Linked DNA regions of Homo sapiens. The protein of the gene in region 7 interacts with the protein of the main gene of each other region in a pairwise test. Each region holds a gene or a part of one and is shown on either strand. Other genes may lie near its edges. The genes, in order: HSF2BP, FXR1, TRIM23, HMBOX1, ZNF526, IKZF3 and PRPF18.

Region 1 (3,500 bases), on a different chromosome or scaffold from region 7:
ACACACTCCCACACACACAGGCTCCCACATACACACACATGCTCCCACACACACACACGCTCCCCCCCCACACACGCTCCCACATACACACGCTCCCACACACACACACGCTCTCCCCACACACACGCTCCCCCAAACACACACACGCTCCCACACACACACTCACACAGTCTCACACACACACGCTCCCCCACACACACACATGCTCCCCCACACAAACACACATACGATCCCACATACACAGGCTCACACACACACACACACACTCCCCCACACACACGCTCCCCCCACACACACACACAGGCTCCCACATACACACACACGCTCCCACACACACACTCCCCCACACACACATGCTCCCATACACACACGCTCCCACACACACACGCTCCCCCCCCACACACACACACTCCCCCACACACACATGCTCCCACACACACACACAGTCACACACACATGCACATGCTCAAACACACATGCTCACACACACACGCTGCCACACACACACACAGTTGAACCTTGAAAACAAGGGTTTGAACTGCACAGGTCCACTTACACAAGAATTTTCTTCAGTAAAAGTTACACCAAGTGTGTCTGCTGCTCCAGCCTCCCCTTCCACCTCCTCCACCTCTACCACCCTTTAGACAGCAATGCCAACCCAACCACTCCTCTTCCTCCTCCTCTTCAGCCTACTCAATTTGAAGATGATGAGGGGGAAGACCTTCATGATGATCTAACATACAAAAAATGTGTTAATCAACGATTTATGTTGTCAGTAAGGCTTCCAGCCAACAGTAGAGAGAGTCAAAAGTTCTATGTGGCTTTTCGACTGTGCAGGGGGTCAGCGCCTCCAACCTCCATGTTGCTCAAGGTTCTGCATCTATATGTATGTGTGTGTGTGTGTATGTATAAACACACACACACATCTACATACATGTATATATGTTAGATAACACAATATTCAATAAATACTATATTAACCATGAGATAATATATATAAAAGCACTTTTGATCTTCTTAAACACATGTAAAGTATTAATACTGAAGTGGTAATATGTCCACATATACCACAAGGTCTCCTGGAGAGAAGGGATCTTATTTCATTCCCTTTGCATCAGGTTACAATGAACCATATACGATAAGTATTCAATAACTAGCTGATGAGTGAACAAAAGAAAATGGAAAGATATGGACTTAGTCTTTAAATGCCTTAATAAGCTATATGCTCTAATTTACACAAGCAGTAATCAACAATATCTGGAGAGCCCACTGACCATACTTACTCCTCCCAAAATGGCCTTGACGACTTCCTCACTGCTGGAGACACCCCACAAGAGGGTACACGCTGCTGCTCCCATTTCTGTACAATACTCTGCCTGCTGCAGGAGTTGCTGCTTCGCTTCATTCAACTGCTGTCGAAGAGCCAGTTTCTCCTAAAAGCAAAACAAAATTGAAAAATAAATAATAGCATTCAACCTTGATATATCTTTATTACATTTCCTCTTTCACAAAGATATTTATTAAAGAAATGCATGTATAATTATAGAAAATAGTTGCAAATGAAAGCTAGTCCTAAGAGAACCATAATCTGTATCTACAAAAGAAATTTCAAAGGCAAAAATATTTGAGAAATATCTGAGGAAAGAACATACTACCACATTATGGTTGATAAACCCACAGAGCTGAATTCATCTGCTTTAAGTAACTACATGAAATATCTCAAGCCCCAAGTAACTATACCCAGAACCAGCACCAACCGAGGCTTCTGAACAAAAACAACCTCACAAAGCAATTTACCCAGAAAGCAACATTTCTAAGACAGGAGACTGCCTCCTCCAAATGGCTCACTCCATTGAAAAAACGCCATCTGCCAGAGGCAGACACCAAATAAAAGGCACTTGGACATCAGGATTTGTAAAAAAACAAGTACTTTAGAAAAACTCATCCTGTATAAACGTATCCTTAACTCCTCATGAGAATATTGCCAAAGGTGCCAGTAAATATAAAATACAATCTGTGAAGCTAAACAGGGAAAGAAAACCTAAAACCTAAGACCAGGTAGGAAAGATGGGAGGAGGGGCAAAAAGAAGTGTGAAGGCTGGGAGTCCTATTCATGCCCTGGTGCAGCAAGCCAGTGCCAGTCTAAGAAGAAGATGGAGGCTAGGAAGAGTTTCCTACTCTCCCACCAGCAGTGTCTGAGGTGACCTGTAGCTGGGCAAGTCTCCACCATGGCACTCTTCACAAGGGAAACACAGGGAATGGCCGTCCTGATGGCCCTCCTGACAACACAAGCACACTTCGAGGATTCACCTTGAGTGTACTGCTAGAGTGATGGGGGGCTTCCTGTCCTCTCCAACCACCAGCACCAGGTACCTGAAATTCCCTTAAAAGGTGATAGCATTTCCTGATTTAATAAGACAAAAACTGAAAAATATAAAACCCCAGTTAAATTCATTTATACCAAATGTAATTAGTTACATAAACCACAAAATTAAAGTATATTAAATGCTGTAGATTTTCTTTTAGAGAGATAAATACAAGACAAAGTAGAGGGGGCTTTTCACCCCCTGGAGGAAAAAGGGAGCTTTGGAGCCACAAATCAAAACTGTTGACCTCATAACTTGGATTAGGGTGGCCCACTCATAGTTACCTGGAGACAATGCGTTTGGCACACAGAGATTCATACACATTCATACGTATATGCACACATGTATTTAAGAAAAAAATGGCCACTGAGCCTCTGGCACATGCTAATACTGCATCATGTGATCTGTCAGCTCCGGGTTTTTAATGTCTTCATTATAGCAACAATCTGGACTCCTAGATTCATCCTTTCAGTGTACGTAGCTGAACACAAGTCATGGTGACACATGAAGAAAACTATGTCACAGCACTTCCTTTTGGAATTCTAGCTTTTCTCACAACTTAAGCTGTCTGCATCTCAATTAGTCAGGATATGGTGGTTCTTCTGCACGACCACAAAAAGACTACTGAGAAGAACCAGGAAGGACTTTGCTCACTACAGTCACATTTGGTAGTTGCAGGAGGATATTCCCCAACGCAGGGTTCCACACATAGTATAATAATATCAAAAAAAAAACAAACAAACCTCAAAGAAAATCATAGCATTCCCAGTAACATCAAAAATAAGAATAATTTTTTAAGGTGCAAGACCTATACAATGAAAACTACAAAGCATTACTGAGAGAAAGTAGAGCTAAATAAAGAGATACACCATGTTCAAAAATTGGCAGGATGTCAATTCTTCCCAAACTGATCTACAGATTCAACACAATCCCTATCAAAATCTCAGCAGACTTCTGTACAAAGTGATAATCTGATTCTAAAATTTCTATGGAAATTCAAGACAGAATATCTAAAAAATTGTCTGAAAAAGAAGAACAATGTTAGAAGACTAACAGTGCCTGATTTAGAGGAAAAAACTAACTATAAACCTACCGAAATAGAACCATTGTGGTATTGCTATAAGGATGGACATA
Region 2 (3,500 bases), on a different chromosome or scaffold from region 7:
AAACAAACAAAAACAACATGCATTCCTCGCATTAGGTTAAAGACACCTTCAAATATTTTTCTCTTTTATACTTTTTTTTTAATTGTGGGTATTACAACTCCCACAAAAATGAGGTGCTGAATTCAGATATAGTAAGCAGGCACCATGCAAAAGCTGCCCAGTTTTGCCAATCAACCTTGATCACAATCTACAACACAGTCCCTCGGATGGCAGGCCCCATCTCAAGTGTGAAGAAACTGCCAAGTGAACAAAATGGTCTTCTCAACAGTATTTCCATGTAAACAATTAGGACACAACATTAGTTCAATTAGACAAGTTACTAACACACTGTGAAGGAAGAATGCATTTTCTTAATAGTAGTAGTCTTATTAGTTGAATAAACAATTTATGCAATGCAAATTTTGAATGTATATGCACACATGTGTACATGTAAGTATAATATATTTAGAAAGCAGACATAGACATTTTTTTCATGCTTGTGACCTGATGGTGTCCACAGGTCCACTCAAGTTACCTGGCTGTCTATCTTCTGCCTGACCCCTGAAGCGACGCCTGCGGCTACGATTGCGTCGCTGGGGTTTTTTTTCACTATCATCTGTAATTGCAAAGTTTACCATGAACTATTCTGACAAAAACAAACAAAAAAACAAAAAAACCTTCTTTCCTTCAAAGATTTAAAGGGGAAAAATAAACTTTTAATTAAACACAAAAATAAAACAACAAATGTTTACTGACAGGAAATACATTTTTGTAGCTTTCAGCATTCCAAATGGATTAAAAATGGAATTATCATCTGGAAATTCAGAGGGTTTTAACTCACAGTAAAACTCAGACTTAAACTGCCATCATTCAGGGACACAGTCTTCCTCTCTAGTACAGTTTGGTTTATACCGAAGTTAATGACATTTTAGCCCTTGAAAATTAATGCCTACTCTTGATATATGTACCTTTACCAGTGTCATTTATAATTATTTTAAAAGAGGCAAGATGAAAGCCTGATTTTAGCTTGGGGACAATAAAAGCACTAAGTACCTTGCCAGCTGAATATTTGTACTGATTTAATGGCATCAAAGGGCACTTTAACCCTCCAAGTTTCAAATAATTTGGCTATAACAAATCTGAGAACTAAACATTTAAGATAGACAAAAAGCTATCTACCTTGTTCAAAGTAAACACTAAGAAAAAGTCAATTTGTGAATTGCATATTTCTTTGAAAAAAGCTTCATATACTAACAATAGTTTACAATTATATATATATATATATATATATATATATATATATATATTTCTCTTCCCTAAGTGCTTACATACCTAGCCCATTTTCATTAACTGAAGCTGTATCAGATTCAGTCATTCCATCCATCAGAACAGCATCTTCATCAGTCCTTCGTCTACGAGACCGCCTACGACGGTTAGTACTGTGATGAGATTCGCTGGCATCAGTGTCTGCAGTCTGATCTGATTCTGTATTATCAAGTAAGCTGTATGGATTGCTGTCTGGATCTTTGAGCACTATATTCATGTCAGAGGCAAGAAATATTCGTTTAAGAGTACTGCAATTATGAATGTTTGATCTATATTGAACTATATCAATGACAAATAAACTTCAGTCTCCCCCAATAAAAATGCACTGTCTTCAAATAAAATGTTTTCAATATTATTTACCTGGAAAATAACAAAGATAATTAAATATGATAAAACTTTAAGTGGTGATGAAAAATTAAAGCAGAAAGTAAGCAGACATCTTGGCTTCCTAACATTTCCTGTGCCTTGTTTTTAAAATATACATTAGAAAATAGTGTATTAAATGCTAATTCTTGCATTCACATTTCAAGGTAATCCTGCCCAGAGACTAGAAAAACAAAAATGAAAAGAAACAAATATTCAGCTGTTAAGAAATAATTATAAGAGCGAGCTTTCATCCCCTTAACTGAGTTCAAAATGACTGCAGCTTTGTTGTGTTGATGTTGATGGACTGTTTCCCAAATAATATTCAATACCTGCATTCCATGACATAATAGAAATCCGTAACTGAACTGAAGCAATCAAGACAAGTTGAAACAAAGCAGCCAATTAAATAAGGTTGAACTTCTAACTGGTTATGAAAGGAAAATGTTGAAACGAATGCTGACTAGTACTCCATCTTTAGAAACATTATGGAAGGTGATGTGAAGGTGGAAAAGGAAAAACTGTAAGGTACAATTCATAAGAAAAATACCCATCTTACCTATGTGCATTTATTACCTCCAACAATCAAATTTATAGAAGAAATTCACCTAATTCCGATTTTTCCTAAGATTCCTTTGGTAACAGCTAGCAAGCTAAGCATCTTTGCAAAAGACACTAAGCGTATCCATTAATCATAAAACACTAGGTCAAGTACATTTATTTTGCAATTCAGTATACTGTAATTTTAAACACCTTGGTAACTGTACAAAGTGTACTAAAATATAAAAACTATTACCCTGAAAGCCTGTAAACTAAACTTAAGGCTCAAAGAGTATTACTGTGGAAAGGGAGAAAATCTAAACAAACAAAGAACAAGTTCCTAATTTTTGCCCTGATTTGTTCCAGTTTTTGTAATTTGTAAGCACAGTTGGCATCTATATTTAATGTATCTACACACACTTTCTATAATATTAAAATACTACATAAGTTTTCATGGGTATAACATTAAGGAAGGTGCGGGTTTCTTAACGTGGTATACCATAATGATATGTTAAAGTTATATCCTTAATATAGTCTATGTATCTATCCCTGGCAATTAACTCCCTAGCCCGTTATGGTAACCAAGGATATTCTGGAAACTCCTACAACTTAATGTAAAGCATAAAAAAATTTTAGAAGACAGAAGTAATTAAGTAAAACGTTTCCTACACCCTCAAATCTTTAGTCATCCAAACACTCCTCTTTACAGCACAGTTCCTCCAACAATTAAAAAACTTAGTTAATTCCACAATTTTTCCCTGTTCCCAAAGTACTACATAGTGTAGCTAAGAATGCTCTTCACTTCGTTTTCAATATTAAGTATAGAAAAGTACTGACATCTCTCTGTGCATTAGAAATCTCTGGGTCTGTCTGGCAAACAAAAAAACATAACCCCAAAATTCTAGGGAAAACAAAAAAAATTCTAATTAAATAAGCCTCCAAAACCTGAAGAGAGAAACATCTGACCCTCATCATATAAAGAAAAGCTGCCAACTAAAGTTCTGACCAGTATATTCTAAGTAAACCTTCACTGAGAAACACTCTACGAGGGCTTTTCCTGATACTGCTATATGGTCCACTACTTTCTCTAAGACAATGAGTAGCAAGAGAAACTTCCAAAAATGGGTGGCCCTGGGAGATGAATTAACTTTTGTAAAATTAAACTGTTTACAAATAATGGATGCTGACAGAGTATAGAAAAGACTACCAGAACTGATGGAGGATTTGCCACCACGTGGTCCACCACGACCTCGACCCCCTGAAACACTTCTGCCTCTTCCTCCTGGGCGTCT
Region 3 (3,500 bases), on a different chromosome or scaffold from region 7:
CTGAGGCAGAAGAATCGCTTGAACCTAGGAGGGGGAGGTTGCAGTGAGCAGAGGTTGTGCCACTGCACTCCAGCCTGGTGACAGAGCAAGACTCAGTCTCAAAATAATAATAGTAACAGTTGTATATAAGTCTGAGGATTATAAAACACTTTCATCTTTAACTATCTGATGAGCAGAAAATGGTATTTCACTGACTTATTTGCATGTCTTAAATATACCAGTTCTTAATAGTTTGCCTTTTTTATTAAGGGGAAAATTCTTTATTCTTCATCCTACTCTTCCCCTCCCATGACATCTCCTCTGCTCCACTTCTACTCTCCTTCTGCCTCTACTTAAAAGCATCTCATCCTCCTAGAAAGGCTCAAGGTCTAGGAATCTTCAGCTACTCCCAGTCCTTCATCCTCCCCATTCAGTCACCAGTTCTGCCTCAAAGTCTTTTCCATCTGCCTCCGCCTTTCTATTCCTCTAATTCAGGCTCTTGTTAATGCTCACTTGAATTATTTAAGCAATTTACTGCATCTCCCTGTCTCCAGTCCTTTGCCCTGATTCATTCTACCCCTAGAATTATAGTATTGAAACACTGATATGATCTTATTACCCACTAATCCAACATTTTGATGACTCCTCCTTGCTCATAGAATAAAACCTAAATTTCTCAGTCTAGCACTGTCAGACCTTTACAGCATGGCCTTGTCTGTTATTCTAAATTCTCTTCATCCTCTACTGAGACCTGACATATAGATCTGCTTGATGTTCCCTAAACTAAAAACATTCATGCTATTATCTTCTCTGTCTATAATGTTCTTCCTTTCACATACTGACTCAGCCTCATGCATAATTTCAACTCAAATTCTACATTTTACAATCTTACAACATGCCACATTTAGAACTACTTTCCTAATTCCCGTAACACTGTGTTACTTAAGTTACTTATCAGTCTTCTTCGTATTCAGATCTCTTATGTGTTCATATGCATACACAGGAGTTTCTGGTGAGCATTAACTACCTTATTTCTATTTTGTATACTCCCAGGTACCCAGCACAGCATTTTCACATAGATTGTACTCAAAATACACAGAAGAAACTATAAATATCTATTGAACTGATTGTCTTCTGAAATATTTCCAGTTGCCTTTTGACATGCACAAAACTACTAAAATAAATATTCCAATATAAAAATGCATTACCTGTTTGTTAGCAAAAATCAGGAGCAGAGCATCTCGGAGTTCTTTTTCCGTTAACAACTTTGCAAGTTCGCTGTGTGCTTCACTAATTCTGTCTCTATGACTGCTATCTACAACAAACACAACAGCTACCCAAAAAAAAATAAAAAAAACAAAAATAGTCACTTGCTAAAGTTCAGTAAATGAACCAAATATTTAATGATATCATTATTATGTTATGGTTAGAGTTTGTCTACCATCATTATTTTCACACAGAGGGTGCCTAGTATGGCAGGGGCACCTACAAATAATTAACAGTATGATTTCAAGTAGTTTACATAACTTCTCAGGTTTAGTTTCCCCATCTAGGAAAGGATTTACAACACTTGCTCTATCAAATGCAAATTGGTCTGTATATCAAATAACTTTTTACATAACGAATTTCAAAATATGCCTCATGATCCTCTACCTATGGATGCTACTTGTTCTTCGAATACTACTTTTCTAATATTTAGTCTTTGAATAAAAGACTAAAAGATAAAAACCATCACCATTTTTATTTCTCCAAAGTATTATGTCTAAGTTAACTATCTCCAGACTTTCAACCATTCCTCATATTCAAAATTTCATTTTTGTAGGGCACAGTGGCTCACACCTATAATCCCAGCACTTTGGGAGGCTGAGGTGAGAGGATCACTTGAGCCCAGGAGTTCGAGACCCCTGGGCAATATAGTGAGACCTTATCTCTATTAAAAAAAAATTAAAAATTAGCTGAATGTGGCCGGGCGCGGTGGCTCGTGCCTCTAATCCCAGCACTTTGGGAGGCCAAGACGGGCGGATCACGAGGTCAGGAGATGGAGACCATCCTGGCTAACATGGTGAAACCCCGTCTCTACTAAAAATACAAAAAAATTAGCCAGGCATGGTGGTGGGCACCTGTAGTCCCAGCTACTCAGGAGGCTGAGGCAGGAGAATGGCGTGAACCTGGGAGGCGGAGCTTGCAGTGAGCCGAGATCGCACCACTGCACTCCATCCTGGGCGACAGAGCAAGACTCGATCTCAAAAAAAAAAAAAAAAAAAAATTAGCTGAATGTGGTGGCATATACCTAGTCCTAACTACTTGGGAAGTTAAGGTGGGAAGATTGCTTGAGCCCAGGAGACAGAGGTGACCATGAAATGCAATCATGCCACTGTACTCCTGCCTGGGCAACAAAGCAAGATTCTGTCTCAAAAAAAAAATACATTTTTTCTATTAATTATGGCTCATAATAATATCAAAAATCCCAAAGTAAAAATAATTATTCAGTCTCTCATCTTGGTGGAAAGCAGAATAACATACAGAATAAGCGGCATGAGCGTAAGCATTATGTTGGGGTCTATGAGGCAGAAGTGTAGAGTAAGACCCAAATGTGACTAAAACCTATGTAGAGTATAGATATGATATAATACGGTTTGGTCAAAAGCAAGCTACTGTAAGTTCTTCTGCAGGTAATAACTATTTGTGAAAGAAATGTGGGAGTGGGGCTATAGTGAGATTATAATGGGATAAATGTTGAGTTTAACTGAATTCAGCAGAATCATACAACATAAATTCAACTCTATACCACTACGCTACCAGCAGTCACACCCATATAATACTGGTAATATACACTCTCTGTTAAGAGAAGCAAGAGTACTCTTAACTGACTACATATCTAAGCTACGTATGGTTTTTATTCTGTAATAATGGTATATCAGGAATAAACTAAAAGTATATATCCTAATCTTTCTACTTTCATTTTTTACAAGTTAAGAAACTGGCCACAGGTACTTAAGTATACAGTCAACGACTTAATCATAAGTATCAGCTTTGCTAGTTAAATCAGTACACTGAAAACTGTCATCCTAAAAATGTGAAAAATTAAATGTCATTTTTAACTCTCACCTTGAGTATTGAGGTAATAATGTTTCCACAATGGTCTTAATTTGTGTTTTCCACCTACATCCCAAATAGTGAATTTTAGATTTTTATATTCTACAGTTTCCACGTTAAAACCTGTTTTAAAAAAAAAGTTACTTTTATACTATATTTGTATTTACAATGAATGACATATCAAACACAGACAACCCCCAGTTTATAACTGTGACTTATCAAATTATCTACATGCAGCAATATCTACTGAAGCCTAATCAACCCCATTCCTACTCCTACGTGGTGAATGTATACCTGTAACAGCTCCTAGCCCTCTAAACCTCCACCAAGGTCCTTAGGACCTTGGGATCCATGTACCTTCCAGCTCTGTTCCACAACTACCCCCCACCCCACACCCTCAGCCAGGATCACCAATCCTCTATTCC
Region 4 (3,500 bases), on a different chromosome or scaffold from region 7:
AAGAAAGTTTAAGTGGAATTTTTCATAAAAACTTTCAGGATGTGCCAATGCAACACTTAATGACAGAGATACACTCTGAGAAACGCACCATTAGGCAATTTCATTGTTGAGCGAACACCATAGAGTGTACTTACACAAGCCTAGGTGGTATAGCCTATTGCTCCTAGGCTACAAACCTGTACAGCATGTTACTGTATTAAACATTGTAGGCAACTGTAACGCACTGGAAAGTATCTGTGTTTCTAAACCTTGGAAAAAGTACAGTTAAAATATGATATAATCTTATGGGACCACTGTCATATATTCAGTCCGTTTTTGACTGAAACATCATTATGTACTACATGACTGTATTACATAAGGCAAAGAGTGAAATTACTGATCCAATAATTGGTTATCTTTCTCCTTAGCTATATTGACAAAACAACAGAACTTATGAAGAGGAGGAGAATCATTCAATCTTTGCAGTAAGAGTTCTGTACCTTGATTTTGGTGGTGATTATGCAATCTACACACCTGTGATAAAATGGCATAGAACTATACACACACATTGTACTGATGTCAATTTCCTGGTTTTAATATTGTATTAAAGTTATGTAGGATGTAACCAATAGGGGAAACTGGGGAAAAGTTACAGTGCCCTCTCTATTTTTGCAGCTTCCTGTAAACTATAATATGCCAAAAGCATCCTAAGGACTTGCCAGCACTTCAAGGGCTCACAATAATCCTATGAAGTAGGTACTATTTTTATCCCCAGTCTATTGATGGGGAAGCTGAGGTACAGACATTTTAAATGATTTGCCCAAGGTCACATAGCTAGTAACTGGCAAAAACCAGGATTTGGACACAGGTGGTATGACTCTCAATTTTTGATTTATGTCAAAGTCTGAGGAGCCACTAAAGGATTACAGGCAAAGTATGGTTGACAATCAAATTCACATTTTATTTTGGCAAGATAACTCCTACTAGGAGCTTAGAATGACTAATGAAAAAAATTCAAACAAGATTAGTTAAGAGACTGATGCAATAAACCAGAAAGGATGAAGATATGAAATAAGAGAACATTAATAGAAAGAAATGTATACAAAATACGAAACCAACTTGACTTCACGATTGGATGAAGAGTGAGAACTTCATCCAATTTCAAGGCTTGACTGACTACACACAAGCCAAGGATTTCATGTTTTAACAATACAATACATTATCAAAATTTTTTTTTTTTTGAGACTGAGTCTCACTCTGTTGCCCAGGCTGGAGTGCAGCGGCGCAATCTCAGCTCACTACAACCTCCACCTCCCAGGTTCAAGCGATTCTCCTGCCTCAGCCTCCCGAGTAGCTGGGATTACAGGCATGCACCACCATACCCAGCTAATTTTTGTCTTTTCAGTAGAGACAAGGTTTCGCCATGTTGGCCAGACTGGTCTCGAATTCCTGACCTTAGGTGATCTGCCCACCTCAGCCTCCCAAAGTGTTGGGATGACAGGCATGAGCCACCATGCCTGGCCTATATTATCAAAATCTTAAAGCAGAACAATTCAGTCTTAAGTCATCCCTGTTTCAGCAGTACCCACAGCATTTCACTTTCTTGCTATAAAAATTGTGACTAGATACAAATTAAAGTTACTGCCACTTGGCAACTCCACGCTACTTAATACGTATACAGTAATGAGGCTACTAATATTTTCAATACACCACATGTGGACCATCTCTGGACATAAGATAAACAAAGAAGCAGCCAGAGAGAATACATACTCAGCATGTGGAATTTAGTCAACATTTTTATCACAATCCACACTCTAAATTTAAGAAAAACCTAAGTGCCCTTTGACTGGATTAGAATCATTTTACCACTTAACAGGAAGGAGTCTAGTGTCACCCATTTTAAGGGTGAAAAAGTTAAAATAATTGATCACTTCAAAGCTAAAATCAGACTATTGTTACTGTTTTTTTTTTTTGCAAATGTTAAAAAAAAACTATAGCCTAAGAATCTGTCAAATATTGCATTAAGATTACACTAATCACTGGAAAAACTTAATGTAACTTCAACTTTATTACCACTATAAGGGTAAAAACCATGCTAAAGCCAGGGCCCTTCCAGGAGCTAAATGCTCTTGGAAAGTGTCCAAAACAATGTTATAGTAAATTTCCAACTTGTTTCATCTAAGGTCAAGGAAAACAAATTATCTAAAGCACTGGATTATGTTTGAATACACTGCAACTAAAAGTTTACATCAAATAATCCCATGGAAAAATCTTTACTCTGCGCCTATGATGGGCCCTAAATCCAGTAAGGGCAATGTGGGGGAATAGCTGCACCTAGGAATCCATGCTACGTCTTACTTACTAATATTTTGAGAAAACTTTCAATATCAATAGCTTCCATTTTGAGAGAACTGTATTTTAACAAAATCTGTGAAAATAATGGTTTGGAATGATAATGAAAATCTCCTCAGCTTCTATAATGTGGACAACATGTGCTGGTTACTCTTTGGTTTCTAGCTTCAGTCAAAGTTCAAGGTCTTCTGCTATTTGTGGCTCAGATTCTTTCTTATGGGAGGCATGTCTGATAGATATACACCAATTTCATAAATAAATAAATAAACATAAAAGTATTTTATGTATGAGTGTATTGTGGGTGTACATATATGGCACTCTAGACAAGCCATGCTTTTCACTCACAACAATGCTTTAATAAATTACAGTTCTACTACAGTGGGAAGTAAAAGCCAACTGTTAACAGAAAAATCTAGCCAAAGAATAGCAAAGTGAGCTACAAAATTAATTCCAGAAGCCAAAGAACTAAATAAAGCTGGTTCACAAAACAAACAAAACCAACACATTTTCAATGAGCACTATTCGGTTTATCTATAAATGTTCATGTATTTAAAAAGTTGAGTGGTATGCCAACTTTCACTTATGACAACATTCTACATAAATACCTGATTCCCAAGAGAAATAATTCAGGTTTAAAGAGCTGTATACAAAAATAAGAGAAGCAAGAGCTACAATGAAATGAACAGAACTAAATTGCACGGGAGCCCTAAATGTGGGATGTGCTGAATACAGTGTACAGGAGACTCAAAATACACAAATTAAGCCTAAATATTCCCAATGTATTCAATATCTATGAAACAAGCAATAGAATTCCAATCAACACTTGCCACAAAAATTGCCATAAGCTGGTTGCTATTTTTTAAATGATGTAACAATGACAGATTTGTTGCCACATATTTTGTAACTTAGGAACACTGAGCTATTAAGTTTCTATTAGCGATGTTTTAACTGAGGATTTGGGCTAGAAGACTGAAATCTGTTTGTACAGCAGTGAAAACGAAGCCTCACTAAAGGCATTCAACTTCCAGCTAAAGGCTCCTTTCCTTGATGCGTATTTGTGACCATACATAGTGTTCACTAAATGCAGTAAACTAAACTAGCAACAGATTAGTTAAAAGCAGCTTAGATTTTCAACTTCCCATAATACAGGCAACATCTTTAGAAGCAAT
Region 5 (2,695 bases), on a different chromosome or scaffold from region 7:
TGCCACAGTCCAGGCATTGGTAGGGACGTGCACCCGTATGGGTCAGCTGGTGGCGGCTGAGGTTGGCCAAAGAAGCAAAGGTCTTGCCACATGAGTGGCACTGGAAGGGCCTCTCACCCGTGTGTGTCCGCAGGTGGTTGCGCACGTGGATCAGCTTCTTGAAGCCCTTGCCACAAACCCCACAGCGGTGACGCCGTTCAGGGGGCCCGTGTACTGCACGCCGGTGCCGGGACAGCCGGGAAGCTGAGGCAAAGGACTTGGAGCACTGTGGGCAGGGCAGCTGGGCAGGTGGGGCAGGGGGTGGTGGTGGAGGGGTGGGCTCCGCTGGAGCTGGGGGAGCTGTTGCTCCTGTGGGAGGTGCCCCGCTTTTGCCGGCGTGAGTGCGCCGGTGGTAGAGGAACTTGGTCATGTTGCTGAACGTCTTGCCGCAACGACAGCGATGCAATGGGTTGGCAGTGTGGGCCCGCCGGTGAGCCACCAACGTGAGTTCTGTGCCAAAGCCGCGGCCACAGTCTACACAGAGGTAGCGGGCTTCCCCGCGATGCAGCCGCAAGTGCTGCTCAAGCGATGCTGCTTTCTTGAAGACCTTGGAGCAGGTTGTACACTCATGTGTGCCACCAACATGGGCCCGCCCATGAGCCTGCAGCCGGTTGGCGGAGCTGAAACTGCGCTGACACTGGCTGCAGTGGAAGGGGTGGGTGGCAGATGCCGGGCTGTGAGCCGTCCGCCGGTGTTGCCGGCGAGCCCCTGCTGAGGGCTGGTGCTGGGGACAGTCCCCGCAGCCCTGAGCCCAGCCAGCTGTGGACTCGTCACCTCCCACAGCATCATCACCGACCTCTGCCATGGCCTCCTCATCCTCCATCTCTTCATCATCTTCTTCATCCTCCTCATCGTCCTCTTCCTCCTCCTCCAACCCATTGCGCTCCTCTTTCTCTAGGGAGTCAAAGTGGGTGCCCTGATGCTCCAAGAACTCCTCAGGGGTGGCGCAGAGGGTAGAGCACTCAGGACACTCATAGGGCTCCATCTTGACTTCGGATGGGGGAGAAGGTGGAGGCAGTGGTGTTGGGGGAGGCAAAGGAGGTGGCACTGGTGGCTCAGCTACCGTAGCAGAAAGGTGCTGGGCCTTTCGATGAGCCACCCACAGCTCGGGCGAGGGGAACAGCTCCTGGCAGTCCCAGCACTGGTATTGGATCTGGTTTGCAGACTCTCGGAGGTGGGCATCCTGGTGGGCCAGGAGCTCCCCAGGGGAGAGGATGAGCTGGCTGCATTCACCACACTGGAAGGGCCCCTCAGCACCCGGCACCAGCTCCGGCTCCAGGCCAACATTCTGTGTGGTCAGTGCCTCCTCCTCTGAGACAGCAAGCATGTGCTGCTCCTGGTGTGAGAGGACTTCCTCCAGTGTGTTATAGAGGCTGCCACACTCAGAGCACATGAACTGGTGATGCTGGAAGAAGAGGGATGAGGCAAGGGCCTCCCCAGGTGTCATCTCAGTCACTTCTGTTGACATCTCCATCATCTCTGCCGACATAGGTGTTGACATCTCCACTGCCCCTGGTGACATCTGTGTTGGCATCTCGGCCACCTCAGCCACCACCTCTGCCATTGTGGGGAAGGCAGTGCCTGGAGAAAGAGGGGCAGGAGCCAGTGAGACAGCAGGAAACCAAGGGGAGGTGGAATTCTCTTGCACATCCCACTACTCACCAGCTATCGCTCAGGAAGTCTTAATCCACTGTTTCTGCTTCAGTCTTCCGTGATCCCATGTCTCTGAAGCCTACACACACCCCACGGCAGCCTGCAGGAGAGAAACACCACTCAGCCCAGCCTCTTTTTTTTTTTTTTTTTTCTTCTGAGACAGAGACTTGGTCTGTCACCCAAGCTGGAGTGCAGTGGCACAATCTTGGCTCACTGCAACCTCTCGCTCCTGGGTTCAAGCTATTCTCGTGCCTCAGCCTCCTGAGTGGCCGGGACTACAGGGGTGTGCCACCATGCCTGGCTAATTTTTGTATATATATATATATATATATATATATATTTTAGTAGAGACAAGGTTTCACCATGTTGGCCAGGCTGGTCTTGAACTCCTGACCTCAGGTGATCCACCCGCCTTGGCCTCCCAAAGTGCTGGGATTACAGATGTGAGCCACCACCCCGGCCAACAGCCCGGCCTCTTTTTTTTTTTTTTTTTTTTTTTGAGATGGACTCTTGCTCTGTTGCCAGGCTAGAGTACAGTGGCGCAATCTCGGCTCACTACAACCTCCACCTCCTAGGTTCAAGTGATTCTCCTGTCTCAGCCTCCCGAGTAGCTGGGACTACAAGTGTGCGCCACCATGCCCAGCTAATTTTTGTATTTTTTTGTTGTTATTGTTGAGATGGAGGCTCGCTCTGTCGCCCAGGCTGGAGTGCAGTGGTGCAATCTCTGCTCACTGCAAGCTCTGCCTCCCAGGTTCAGGCCATTCTCCTGGCTCAGCCTCCCGAGTAGCTGGGACTACAGGCGCCTGCAACCACGCCCGGCTAATTTTTTGTATTTTTAGTAGAGACAGGGTTTCACCGTGTTAGCCAGGACAATCTCAATCTCCTGACCTCGTGATCTGCCCGCCTGGGCGTCCCAAAGTGCTGGGATTACAGGCATGAGCCACCACGCCCGGCCAATTTTTGTATTTTTAGTAGAGATGGGGTTTCACCATGTTGGCCAAGA
Region 6 (3,500 bases), on a different chromosome or scaffold from region 7:
TTAAAAAAAAAAACAAGCAAGGAAATAAAATTTAAAAAACAAGGAAATAAAGCCATGGATCAAATGAAAAACAGTAATAATAATGGTAAAAGTGGCTAAGCTCTAAACTAAACAAAAAAAATCATCCTCTCTCAATGTAGGTGGTAATTCCAATCCTAGATAAATTTGAGTGTACTAAAACCATGCAAAAATGCTTCATGTTTGAACATAAAATGGAGTTACAGTCTAGAAGTCATTAGACAGCAAAAAATGTCACTACGTTTCAGAAAAGGAAGGTATTCCTCTTAGAATGAGGGATGGCTTCCTAAAGGAGATGGCATTTAGGATAGACCATAATGGATGAGTGAGGATTTCAGTTGGCATGATTGTGGTGCTATTAACAGTGTTGGGAAGTCAGGAGAAGTTGGTTTGGATTGGAGAGAAAATTAGTTCATTTTTGGACTTGTTGAGTTGGAAGAACAGCATTAGAAAAATGGGGAGTGAGGGAAAGCAATGCCTGAACAGGGAACACTAAGCAGCAGTCCAGAGTCACATTACAGGACAGAAGATACCACTGGAAAGGTACTGAAGCTGTGTTGTGGAGTATCTTAAATGTCCAACCAAAAAATATTTAAAATGGTGTCTGAGTAGGAGAATAACTTTATGTTTTAGGAAGATCATTCTGGCAGCAATCCTCAAAACAGATTAAAAGAGGCAAGTCTAGATACAGGGTTACTAGTAGGAAAAACATGTAACGGTCTAAATCAGTCATTTTCAAAATGTGTTTTATGGAATCCAGGGTTGCAGAGGGCTGCCACAGGGCTGATCTATGGCAAGAGGAAGATAGGCTTAGCAGTGGTCTCTTGCTCCTTCTCCAATCTCTCATTTGGAACATTACACTTGCATCTGATCCCACATAAGATTTTGGTATAAACGGTGTCCTGTTGCAAAAAAAACAAGTTTTTGTCTTGTTTTTGTGTCTAATCCTAACTCTTGTTGAAATGTGAGACTAACAGTGAAATACCTCAAGGTCATCGTGTAATCATCAAGTCTCATTGTGTAGAGTAGTAGTTATAAAATCTATAAGCACTACATGAATTCCTAATATCAACTTGTTCAGTCATTATTTGTCCTATTATATAGATTGGATCTCCCTCCCCAAATTGGATTACGTGTAAAAATGTTCTAGTTGTTTAGGTCTGGGGCAACTAAGTCCATACTAGGTCATTGATGTTTGCAATGGATATCTATAGAGTCCTTTGAGAATCTCCAAATTCCTTTTATTGAGATGTGCATACTATGCTATTGGCTTGGCACACTTAGAAGCTGTTACTTGTTTGTGCATTCTGGTCTCCTAGCCCTACTAATTCAAATCTGAAAAATTAGTCGGGCAGTATTGGCACATGCCTGTAATCCCAGCTACTCAGGAGGCTGAGGCAGGAGTGCTTCACCTTATTATTTCAGAACAGTTTTTAATTAAACTACTCCCAGAAACTTGAGAAAGGATGATAAGTAATCTTTGCTTCAAAGTTGAATCACAAAAATATTTAACATTCATTTTATTTCATTCTGAACATAAAAATCAAACAAGAAATGCCCCAACTTTATTATAAGTATTTAAGATTTATAATATACGATGATGATGTAACATGTATTATAATATACAATGTATATTGTATATGTACAATATAACATGTATATTGTATATGTACAATATAACATGTATATTGTATATGTACAATATAACATGTATATTGTATATGTACAATATAACATGTATATTGTATATGTACAATATAACATGTATATTGTATATGTACAATATAACATGTATATAATAACTCTTTTAAATGCTTGTAAGGTTACATGTTACATGTCTTTGTTAGTGAGTAGTTGATTACTATACTGTGACAGAAGCATGTCCCAAGCAGCTGAGCCTTAGCCTTTACAGGCACTTAATAAAGTACAGGGAATAAGACAGTTAGTAATATTCTTTTTTATTTATTTATTTTTTTGAGACGGAGTCTGGCTCTGTCACCCAGGTTGGAGTGCAGTGGTGCAATCTCCACTCACTGCAACCTCGGCCTCGCAGGTTCAAGCAATTCTCCTGCCTTGCTGGTGGTGGCACGTGCCACCACACCCAGCTAATTTTCATATTTTTAGTAGAGATAAGGTTTCACCATGTTGGCCAGCTGGTCACAAACTGTTAATAATATTCTTACTTAAATAACTTTTACAGCGTGGTGGCTCATGCCTGTAATCCCAACACTTTGGGATGCCAAGGCGGGCGGATCATCTGAGATCAGGAGTTCGAGATCAGCCTGGCCAACATGGTGAAATACTGTCTCTACTAAAAATACAAAAATTAGCCGGGCGTGGTAGCGGGAGCCTGTAATCCCAGCTGCTCGGGAGGCTGAGGCAGGAGAATTGCTTGAACCTGGGAGGCAGAGGTTGCAATGAGCCAAGATTGCACCACTGCACTCCAGCCTGGGCAACAAGAGCGAGACTCCATCTCAAAATAATAATAATAATAATAATAATTTTACATGAGAAAATATGCACAGGAGAAAAAAGACCAGCAGCACCATGATTTTACTCATCATGTTTATAAAATTTTAATATTTGGAAAAAAAAGCCTCATTTTGAGGTCAGAGGATAAATTTATACACTGATCATCTTCAATACTTTAAAGTCTGGAATTTTATGTGAAATTCAAATGAAATTTAAATCAAGTTAGCCCGTGAAGCACCTTTGTGGAACTGCCTACACTGTATGTAAGCATATAAATCAACTATTAGTGATTTTTAGCAGTCTAGGTCAAGGGATTTCTTAACTAAGAGATAGAGGTAGATGACAGCAAAAATGACTAGTTGTTATATATTATAAAAATTAGTTACTTCCAGTTTTCATACTGGACAATATTTTCCATCAGTTATGATGTAATTCCATATCCATAAAAATGTTATAGGTTTGTGAGAGTGATCTTTTTCTCATATCCACAAACTCCTAGAGGAAATTGTTCTGATGTGCCAAATATTCTGGTAAATTAATAGTCTCTCTAATATACATTACTTCTTAAATGAACTGATGTTGCTGTGATAGAGTATTCAAATTAAGTGATGTTCAACAATTTTAAGAATCAAAACATCTATTGTGAAGAAAAGGTTTATAGTGGAAACTGCAGTGCTTCACTGAAATAAAAAATGTACCAAAATTATTAAATAAAGCCAAAAGTTAGAAGGCATTGTATTTTGTGGGGGGCATGGATTAGAAAAATGGCCGTATTCACGCATTGGATTTAGCCAATACTTCAATCTCTTCTACCAAACCTTTAACAGTACCTTTAACAAATTAGCCAGCAAAATTTACCAATTTCAATGTCTCTATTTTCCTTCCCCCCTTTACTATAAAAGCTGGGCAAGAAAAGAGTCAAATGATCAAACACACAGGCAACTCATTCATTAATTTATTAAACAAATATGACTACAGGCCTACTATGTGCTGGGGACTGGGTTGGGTAC
Region 7 (3,500 bases):
GTGGATGTTAGGAAGGGCCAGGGTGTTGAAATCTAAGTGCTTTAAAGGGAAAAGTGAATCACAAAATATTCAGCCCACCCTCAAGGTTCACAACATGAATATTTGCATAATCATGTTCTTCGTCATTGAAATGCACCAATCTACAAAAATGATCATTAAAAAAAAAACTTTAGATTCTTCAGGGTCATTTATAATTTATAATATATAAACTTTTCCTGGGTGTCTTTCATTTTTTAATTTGGTAGTTGATTGAATTATCACATAATTCCAGCCAGAAGATAAGATTGATTTTTTCAATCACAGAGCAGTTCAGACCAACAAAGGGCGTACATGAAATGGGAATTAAAATACTGACATTCGGCCGGGCGCGGTGGCTCACGCCTGTAATCCCAGCACTTTGGGAGCCTGGGGTGGGCAGATCACGAGATTGAGACCATCCTGGCTAACACGGTGAAACCCCATCTCTACTGAAAATACAAAAAAAAAAAATATATATATATATATATATTAGCTGGGCATGGTGGCAGGTGCCTGTAGTCCCAGCTACTCAGGAGGCTGAGGCAGGAGAATGGCGTGAACCCGGGAGGCGGGGCTTGCAGTGAGCTGATATTGTGCCACTGCACTGCAGCCTGGGCGACAGAGCGAGACTCCATCTCAAAAAAAAAAAAAAAAAATACTGACATTCATAGTTTATATTAGCAGTAATGTTAGGCATCATGCAATATGTGTTTTCTAACTTGTACAACAAGTTGCCATTGTTCCCATTTACAGATGAGGAAACTGGAAGCTAAGAGAAGTTACATGACTATAGGATTATGCAGCTAGCAAGAGATAGAGCCTGGATTTGAACCCTGGTCTGTTCCTACTTCAGAGCCTGATCTGTTAACCTGTACAGATAGAATGGATATTTATTCACCTTACAAACATAGAACTAGTTTTGATAGGGCTAATGTAACAAAGCACTGGAAAATTATTAGACTAACATGATTTATATTTTTCAAAGTGCTATATGCTATCTGATTTGAGCTTTACAACGGTTAATTAGTGCACAAGGCAATGCTGTTTTCATGGATGATGAAATTGAGGCTTAGAGGGTTACACGATGTTCTCATATTCCTGTGGCCAGCCGGGATAGATCTCAAGTCTTAGACCAACTTGAGGGTGAGTGCTCTTGCATGATGTAAGGGAACATACACAACTAGGCGTCTTTTCTGTTGTATCCATGGGAAGACAGTCTTTAGATCTGCAGCTCTATCATTTCATGCAGAATAGTTGCTTTATATTTTTCATCTTTCTGCATCACAGTGTCTGTCAGTAACTTACAGACTTTTTCACTGCCCCGTTCATAGCAATACATTTTTATATATTGATCTGATATGTATGTGAAAAAAGTTTTATGAAATAATTCTTACAACCACAAATGATTTTATCATGTTTTATTCAGTCCTCCTTTTTTGTTATCAGTTATTTAATTAGGTTCTTCTTAAGAAATGTAGAACACCAATTTGTGAGGATAAATTCCATGAGTCGGGGCAAACACAGATCGCAGGTAGTCCTGGAGCTTAGGAATAGCTTTGATTTTTGGTAAAATTTGTGACTCCACAGCTTTCTGATCAATCTTGTGCTGCTCTGTAATCTTGTATTTATCTTTTTCTGTGCTGAAGATCTCAGCTTCCTGGTGTCTGGGCTTCTGCAGCTGCTGCTGCTTGAATAAGCATCAGTGGGATGTTTTGGGATTTTTACATCGCTGATAACAATTTTGGTTGAGGTGGCAATGACAGATTTCTGGTGTTTTCTTCATAGAGGAACTCGATTGAGGACCAGAGGTCCAGTCACAAGTAACAAGCCACTAGCCAGGTGCTTCAGGAAGACCGCCCTCTTGCCTCTGTGGAATCCAGTGAGGATGATCAGAACGTTCCCCGGGGTAATGCTGGTTCGCAGTTTTCTCACGTGTCAACTGAGGGTTTTTTTTTTTTTTTGCCATGGCTCAACAGCTTTTGAGGCACATCTTCAGTAGGAAAATATCTAGGCATTTTATGAAGTTTAACCACCTGGGTACTACCATTCTTGTCACCACCAACTGGTTTTGTAACAGTTGCAAGAACCTTCTTTTTCTTTTCAACCTCGTACTTAGCGGCTGAGTACTTCCTCTTATACACAGCTTTTCTGGAATACATAGCACATCGGGAATACCTGCCAATTCCTCTGACAAGGACAGGGTTGTGCTGCAATGGGGCTTCCCCTTCTTGGGCTTCTTAGCCTTGAGGTGACCCTTTTTCACCTTGTCACCAGCCTCAGCCTTCTTGGCTTTGGGTTTCTTCTCTTTAGTATCCGGCTTCTCAACTTTTTCACCCACCATCTTACAAGATGGGGAAGAGCAAGTCCCTTTGTTTTAATTTTTTAGAAAACACGGGTCAGGGATCAGTAGATTGTTGTCATTACCGCATCTGTAGCTGGAAAACAGTTGTCTGTGTGGTGTTGCTCTTGCAGAAAGAAGAGCCACCTCATCTTTGGTCATTTCAAGTGGTGTCCCAGCTTTTTGTGGTTAATCTGTGATAGTTGAAATAATCAGTACTTAGCTTGTGAGTGCCTCTTTCTCAAATTGCAGAGAAGTGACTAAGATATCCTCTTACCACCTGTCCTAAAGTGCCCTGCCTGGTGTAACCACCCTGAGGTAAATGTGTCTGCATTGCTAGAACACCAGTGTTTTGGAGCCTAGAATTGGTGAGTTTTCATTTAATGCAAAACCTCGTGTGGAAAACCAGGCTGCTCTAGAAACTCAATGGGGAGTAATTAGTAGTTTTACTAGTTGTAGTTATGAGGATGAGCTATGTGCAGAATTTTAGCTTTTTTTCCTTCCAGTATTTACTGCATCTTTCCTATATGCAAGATACTATGCTGTGCTGCAGTAACAATGCTACAATAATCAAAACAGCATAGCGCTGGCATAAAGAGCAACAGCTAACACCACTAGAGTATAACAGAGCACCCAGAACGGAGCCACCCTTACACAATTATTGATTTTTGACAAATACACTAAAACCAAATGGAAGGAAAGATATTTTCAGTAAATGATGCTGAACAACTGGATATCCATACGGAAATAATAAGCAACAACCCCTACCCCACATTATACAAAACATTCTGAAATGAAGGACCAATGGAAGGAATGGCAGGAACCAACATGGGAGACATTGGAAAATAAAATTAGTAAGGAAAACTGTATACTAGTTCTAATACATTGGAAAATCTAAGTGAAGTAAATGGCTAAAAAGTACAAAAAAATACAAGAAATAGAAAATCTAAGCAAACCAGTAAGTGAGGAAGACATAAGAAGAATCTGTCAGCTAAGAGGAGAAAGTTACTGAAGGAAGGAAGGAATGAGCAGTTAAATCGAAGACTGGATGAGATCAGTCAGAGAAGTCTCTTTGGATTTGTATCTTAGACATTATTTATGACCCCAAGGAGGTTTTTTCAGTGAAACAGAATGGATGTCCACA

The links.
Region 1: the proteins of PRPF18 (region 7) and HSF2BP interact in binary tests that used the Homo sapiens proteins (3 or more experiments, as listed by UniProt).
Region 2: the proteins of PRPF18 (region 7) and FXR1 interact in binary tests that used the Homo sapiens proteins (3 or more experiments, as listed by UniProt).
Region 3: the proteins of PRPF18 (region 7) and TRIM23 interact in binary tests that used the Homo sapiens proteins (3 or more experiments, as listed by UniProt).
Region 4: the proteins of PRPF18 (region 7) and HMBOX1 interact in binary tests that used the Homo sapiens proteins (3 or more experiments, as listed by UniProt).
Region 5: the proteins of PRPF18 (region 7) and ZNF526 interact in binary tests that used the Homo sapiens proteins (3 or more experiments, as listed by UniProt).
Region 6: the proteins of PRPF18 (region 7) and IKZF3 interact in binary tests that used the Homo sapiens proteins (3 or more experiments, as listed by UniProt).

What each region holds. Positions count from the first base shown.
Region 1 is NC_000021.9:43,631,989-43,635,488, forward strand, and holds part of HSF2BP (heat shock factor 2-binding protein), read right to left. Parts: intron 1,434-3,500; coding exon 1,284-1,433; coding exon of another isoform or gene 1,275-1,283; intron 1-1,274. UniProt on the Homo sapiens protein: Meiotic recombination factor component of recombination bridges involved in meiotic double-strand break repair.
Region 2 is NC_000003.12:180,968,170-180,971,669, reverse strand, and holds part of FXR1 (RNA-binding protein FXR1), read right to left. Parts: coding exon 3,416-3,500; intron 1,513-3,415; coding exon 1,312-1,512; intron 596-1,311; coding exon of another isoform or gene 515-595; intron 1-514. UniProt on the Homo sapiens protein: mRNA-binding protein that acts as a regulator of mRNAs translation and/or stability, and which is required for various processes, such as neurogenesis, muscle development and spermatogenesis.
Region 3 is NC_000005.10:65,593,334-65,596,833, forward strand, and holds part of TRIM23 (E3 ubiquitin-protein ligase TRIM23), read right to left. Parts: intron 3,199-3,500; coding exon 3,088-3,198; intron 1,313-3,087; coding exon 1,188-1,312; intron 1-1,187.
Region 4 is NC_000008.11:28,893,395-28,896,894, reverse strand, and holds part of HMBOX1 (homeobox-containing protein 1), read right to left. Parts: intron 1-3,500. UniProt on the Homo sapiens protein: Binds directly to 5'-TTAGGG-3' repeats in telomeric DNA. Associates with the telomerase complex at sites of active telomere processing and positively regulates telomere elongation.
Region 5 is NC_000019.10:42,223,312-42,226,006, reverse strand, and holds part of ZNF526 (zinc finger protein 526), read right to left. Parts: intron 1,793-2,695; 5' UTR 1,702-1,792; intron 1,621-1,701; 5' UTR 1,604-1,620; coding exon 1-1,603. UniProt on the Homo sapiens protein: May be involved in transcriptional regulation.
Region 6 is NC_000017.11:39,854,313-39,857,812, forward strand, and holds part of IKZF3 (zinc finger protein Aiolos), read right to left. Parts: intron 1-3,500. UniProt on the Homo sapiens protein: Transcription factor that plays an important role in the regulation of lymphocyte differentiation. Plays an essential role in regulation of B-cell differentiation, proliferation and maturation to an effector state.
Region 7 is NC_000010.11:13,589,965-13,593,464, forward strand, and holds part of PRPF18 (pre-mRNA-splicing factor 18), read left to right. Parts: intron 1-1,803; exon of another isoform or gene 1,804-1,903; coding exon of another isoform or gene 1,904-1,924; intron 1,925-3,500.